2 linked regions of the Homo sapiens genome follow. The protein of the gene in region 2 interacts with the protein of the main gene of each other region in a pairwise test. Each region holds a gene or a part of one and is shown on either strand. Other genes may lie near its edges.

The links. Proteins that work in one complex are often made in the same cells at the same time.
Region 1: the proteins of KLF15 (region 2) and GTF2B interact in binary tests that used the Homo sapiens proteins (3 or more experiments, as listed by UniProt).

The regions. Positions count from the first base shown.
Region 1 is NC_000001.11:88,860,568-88,864,067, reverse strand, and holds part of GTF2B (transcription initiation factor IIB), read left to right. Parts: coding exon 1-87; intron 88-3,500. UniProt on the Homo sapiens protein: General transcription factor that plays a role in transcription initiation by RNA polymerase II (Pol II). Involved in the pre-initiation complex (PIC) formation and Pol II recruitment at promoter DNA.
Region 2 is NC_000003.12:126,342,135-126,344,771, forward strand, and holds the end of KLF15 (Krueppel-like factor 15), read right to left. Parts: intron 1,762-2,637; coding exon 1,593-1,761; 3' UTR 501-1,592; downstream 1-500. UniProt on the Homo sapiens protein: Transcriptional regulator that binds to the GA element of the CLCNKA promoter. Binds to the KCNIP2 promoter and regulates KCNIP2 circadian expression in the heart. Is a repressor of CCN2 expression, involved in the control of cardiac fibrosis.

The sequences.
Region 1 (3,500 bases), on a different chromosome or scaffold from region 2:
GACAAAGCAACAAAAGATCCATCTCGAGTTGGAGATTCTCAGAATCCTCTTCTGAGTGATGGAGATTTGTCTACCATGATTGGCAAGGTAATAAGTCCATTTGGCAGGAAATACCAATTGCAGAGTGACCATAGACCTGAGAGTTTGGGAACTTTGCAAAAGTATCAGTCACTGCACCAGTGGGGAATCTTGACCTGTCTAATAAGATTTGCCAGTAATATCATTGTGAATGATGGCTAACTTGTGTGTGTATTCCATCTTAAAGTGGGGAAGACCATTAAATCAAAATTATAAAGCCTTTATATCAGGCCTTTTTTCATAAATGACATTTTCTGTACACACAAAAAATGAGTGTAGTGTGGCCTTCATGAGTTAATATTGATATGTTCTTTGAATATCAAGAATGTCTTCTCAGCTGGGCATCATGGCTCACACCTGTGATCCCAGCACTTTGGGAGGCCAAGGCAGGCGGATCACAAGGTCAGGAGTTCGGGACCAGCCTGGCAAATATGGTGAAACCCCATCTCTACTACAAAAAAAAAGGAAAATAGAAAAATTAGCCAGGCTTGGTGGCGGGCACCTGTAGTCCCAGCTTACTCGCGAGGCTGAGGCAGAAGAATTGCTTGAACCCAGGAGGCGGAGGTTGCAGTGAGCCAAGATCGCGCCACTGAACTCCAGCCTGGGCAACAGAGTGAGACTCTGTCTCAAAAAAAAAGAAAAGAATGTCTTCTCTTTTCTCTCTATACCACTTAAGATAAATGGGAGGTTAGTGTAACCTCTTTTCTGATATTAGTGAATTTATGACTTACCTAACTTTACATTCCTTATCTGTAAAATGAGAATAAGAGTACTTATAGAGTTTTTGAGGGTTTCATGAGAATGTATGTAAAGTATTTATATAACATGTATTGTATACTGTGTGCTCAGTCAGTGGTAGCTGCTATCATTGTGTAAGGCAATAGTATAGTTTTCTTGGCAGCCTGATTCTCACTCTGTTATCCGAGTTGGAAGTAATAGTGACGGTATTACTGAGGGCTAATCAAGGAAGTATACACCATTTTATAACTTCATGTATACTATTGCATAGTCTCTTTTTTTTTTTTTTCCAAAAAAGTCTTGTTTAAAATCTGTCTGGCTGGGCACAGTGGCTCATGCCTGTAATCCCAGCACTTTGGGAGGCCGAGGTGGGTGGAGATCAGGAGTTCAAGACCAGCCTGGCCAAGATGGCGAAACCCCGTCTCTACTAAAAATACAAAAAGTAGCTGGGCATGATATGATGGTGGGCACCTGTAATCCCAGCTACTCAGGAGCCTGAGGCAAATAATTGCTTGAACCCGGGAGGCGGAGGTTGCAGTGAGCTGAGATCGCGCGACTGCACTCCAGCCTGGGCAACAGAGTGACACTCTTGTCCAGGCAGGTCTTGAACTCCTGGTCTTCAGCAGTCCTCCCGCCTCAGGCACCCAAAGTGCTGGGATTACAGGCATGAGTTTACCATGCCGAACCCTGTATAGTCTGTTTTGTTTTTGAGACGTTCTAACACTGTCGCTAAGGTGGGAGTGCAGCAGTAGCTTGATCTCGTCTCACTGCAACCTCCACCTCCCAGGCTGAAGCGATCCTTCCACTTCAGCCTCCCAAGTAACTGGGACCACAGGTGTGGGCCACGACACATGGCTAATTTTTGTATTTTTTGTAGAGACAAAGTTTCGCCATGTTGCCCAGGCTTGTCCCAATTCTTGGGCTCAAGTGATCCACCCACCTCGGCCTCCCAAGGTGCTGGAATTACAGGTGTGATCCACCATCCCTGGGCAAGATAGAAATATTTTTAAGCTGCTAGATTTATCACATAATAAATTTCTATGTGTACTTGGGCATATTTCTCAACTTTCTATCTTTTCCTGTCCTGGTCCAGTTAGTCAAATGCCATACAACACTGTTTTAGTATTTAGTAGCACTAGTTTTCCCTCATTGCTCTTTTTCAGCATTTTCTTCGCTAGTCTTTTCCATTTAAAGGTTAAGTTTGTTTCATTTTTTAAAAAAATTTAGGTTTGTTCACTTGCATTTTTTGTACCTTTGGAGTTGATTAAATGATTTTCCTCTTCAGCTCTATTAATATGATGTTTTATGTTATTAGATTCTTTAATATATTTGTGGAACAGTCTCCACTTGGTTGATATTACTGCCTTTTAATACCCTGTTGGATTCTGTTTCCTGTGGGGTTTTTTGGTTTTCTTCTTTTGAGACAGGGTCTCTTTCTGTCACCCAGTCTAGAGTGAAGTGATGTAATCATAGCTAACTGCAGCCTCAAACTCCCAGGCTTAGGTAACCCTCCTGCCTCAGCCTCCTGAGTAGCTGAGACCACAGGCGTGTGCCATCACACTCGGCCTGTTTTGTTTTGTTTTGTTTGAGACAGAGTTTCGCGCTTGTCACCCAGGCTGGAGTGCAATGGCACGATCTCTGCTCACTGCAACCTCCGCCTCCCAGGTTCAAGCGATTCTCCCGCCTCAGCCTCCCAAGCAGCTGGGATTGCAGGCATGTGCCACCACGCCTGGCTAATTTTGTACTTTTAGTAGAGGTAGGGTTTCTCCGTGATCATCAGGCTGGTCTCACACTCCCGACCTCAGGTGATCCGCCTGCCTCAGCCTCCTAAAGTGCCAGGATTACAGGCATGGGCCACTGCGCCTGGCCTGTTTTTTAATATTTAATATTCTCACTGGGGTTTTGGTCAGATTCATTTGCAAATTGACACAGGGAAAATTGGCTTCTTCATAATAAATCTTGTATTCAAAAATTCATAATGCCTTTCCATTTCCTTAGGTATCTTATGTGTCCTTCAGGAGATGTTTGAAAGTTTTCTTCATGAACGTCTCACATGTTTCTCAAGTTTATTTCAAGATTTTTGTTGTTGTTTTAATTGAAAAATTTGCTTTCCTTGTCTTTTAAGTTGGTTGATTGTACTTATGAAGGGTATTGATTTCTATTTATCTTGACCTTGCTGCTTTAATGAATTATTTATAGCAGCTGTTTTTTAGTGATTTTCTTGCATATTCCAGGTGTATAAAGGTACTATCTGCAAATAGTTTATCACATCCTTTCCAATTTTGTACTTCCGGTTTTTCTCTTGCTTAATACTATTGGCTAGTTTTTCCAATCAGTGTTACAAAATGGTAGCAGTAGGAGGTACCTTTGTCTTGTGATTTTGGTGATAATGCTGGTAATGTTTCTCCATTAATCATAGTACTTTCTTTGGGCAGAGGAGAGTGGTTTTCTAATGTAAAGAAGTACTCATTTGTAGCGTCCTATGAGTTTTTATCAAAGACGAATTTTGATTTTGTTCATTTGCCTTTTTAGCGTCTTTGGAGATGATCATGATTTTTCTTCTTACATCTATTAATATAATGTTTTACATTATTTGATTCTCTAATATCTTGTGGAACAATCTCTAGTTGGTCATGATATACTACCTTTTAATATGCTGTTGGATTCTGTTTTCTAGTATTTAA
Region 2 (2,637 bases):
TCTCACCTCTGCCTGCTCAGGATTCCTAACACTTTCACAATTACCCACGCCAGTAGGAAATGGCACAGCCACGTTCCTAAGGGGGTAAATACTCTGCCAAGGCACAGCAAACATATAGGGCATGTGTAATAGGTTTGGTGGACTGGATGGGGGTAGGAAGTGCAAGAAAGGGTCTCCGATAGCAGAGTAGGTGAGCCTCGCAGGACTGGCCAGGCCTGAGGCAGCTTCCCACAGGTGCTGTCGGAATGTGGGCTGGATTTGGGTTTACGGAGCTCCAGGTCAGGGAGCCGGGATGAGCAGAATCTCAGCAGCTGGCCTGGAGCTGAGCTGTATGGGAACCCTACCCTGCTGGACCGGGGCTGGACCCCAAGGGGCCTTTCTATCCCTCCAAATACAAAACAGAGTTCCCTGAACTCTGCGAAGGTGGAGACATAGACTCGGCCCCAGAGTCACCTCCACATCCCGGCAAAGCAGGAAAACAGCACATGAATGCCAAAAGCTGTGAGTTCTTTTTCTTTTTATTGGCAAAGTAAATATATTTTTATGAAGGACCAAAGAAAATATACGTAATTGTAACATATGTACACCAGCTTCATAGATTTTTTTAAATTTCAAATTTACACAAATGTTGATATGTTATTAAAAGATATTTTATGTGGATGGACCTATGTACAGTTTATTTACATACATTCATAGGATGTGAAATAAACCTGTCAAAACAAGCTAGTTCATTTATTAATTTCTAGACAAAATAAGGAATGCATTTCTAAATCAGGGTTGGGAGGCTCTATCTAGTTCTCTCACACCCAGGACAGCCTGGCCCTCTCCTCCCAAGGCCACCCTAAAGGCTGGTGTCTGGATTTGTCTGGGAAACCGGAGGAGGGGACGAGCCCCTGGGTACAGGCCCTTCTGGCTCTGTCTGCCCTGCACATTTAACTCAAGCACATGCACTGCCAGCCCCCTAGTGGGGGACGCTTTTCACCTCTCTCCCACATGAGGGCCCAGCGGCCCGGTCCTGCCCCCCCCCCCCCCCCCCCCCCCCCCCGGCTCCAGGGACCTGCCCACACCCTCTGGTGATCATGCTGAGCAGGCATCTTAGACAAAGCCACCCTCACACCACAGTGCAGCCCTGGACTTCTGGCCTACTTCCTTCTCCTCCAGCATGACTCTCTCTGGAAACCCAACATTTCAAAACTGCACATTTCATCTTCCCCTAGCACTAAAGTTCTGGCCTTGGCCCAGGATGGGGGAGCCCAGTGGGAGAAGGGCCAGGTCCCCAAAACTCTGCCTGCAACCAGCGGCTGCAGCAGAGGCCTGGCCACCGCGGGAAGGCACGAAGGCACGAAGGCACGAAGGCCTGCCTCCAGCCCCGTGCGCCTGGGGCCCAGCCCCCAGGGACGCGGGTTCGAGGCTCTAAGTACTCCCGAGAAAGGCAGCGGTTGGCGGGCCCTGGGTTCACACCTCCCAGGCTTCAGAAGGTGGGCTGGTAACATTGCCATGTCCCTCTGGAGGAGGCAAATAAATTATTGCTTAAAAAAATGGGGATGGGGTGGGGATCCGGGGTGACGGACAGGCTGGGGTTCAGGGCGCTTTCAGTTCACGGAGCGCACGGAGCGGCTGCTCCGCGGGAAGCGGTGCACCTTGATGTGCTTGGAGAGGTGGTCGCTCCGCGCGAACTTCTTCTCGCACACAGGACACTGGTACGGCTTCACACCTGAGTGCGAGCGCCTGTGCCGCGACAGCTCGTCAGAGCGCGAGAACCTGCGGGACATGGCGCGGTCAGCGAGGCCTGGCCCTGCCTGCCCCTGCCTGCCCCGACCCCACGAAGTTGCCGGGATGCAAGGCGTGCACCTGGCACTCACCCAAAGGGTGGCTGCGCAGACCTGCAGCCTCTACAGGATTAGGGGAGGGTCCCCCATCTACGTCGGTAAGGCTATACCAGTTCTCAAAATACCATTTTTTTTTCTTTTTTTGAGACAGGCTGGAGTGCAGTGGCGCCATCACAGCTCACTGCAGCCTCCCGGGCTCAATCAATCCTCCTTAGCCTCCAGAGTAGCTAGGATTACAGGTGTGCCCACCACACCCAGATAGTTTTTGTATTTTTTTTTAGAGACCAGGCCTCCCTATGTTGCCCAGGCTGGTGTCAAACTCCTGGGCTCAAGCGATCAGGCTACTTCAGCTTCCCAAAGTGCTGGGATTAAAGGCGTGAGCCACTGTGCCAAGCTGCCCCTGCCACCCCTCCAAGATGGAAAGAACTACAGTAAAGGCTCATGCTGGCACAGTGGGCATTCTCTGTTGGGAACTGCCAGAGCAGCTGGTAAAAGCTCCCAACAGGAAAGGACCCCAATGCTACCAGGGACCAGGGCTTCCCTCCCACAGCCCACCCAGTGTGCAGGGGTCTCTGAGGCCACAGGTGCACTCAGTCGCTCAGGCCCTGATGCTGGCTGCCTCTCACCACCCTGGCCTCATCTACCCCACTGGACCAGAACTCCACAGGGGCATCTGTGAAGGCCTGTACAGGACCGCCCATCCGGAGGGGAAACGGAGGCCTGGGAGGAGGAAGCAGCACAGGGAGAGAGGTCCTCAGACTTGAGTCCACCCACTCCTGAAACCAGCTGTGCTGGAAGCTGGGCCCTC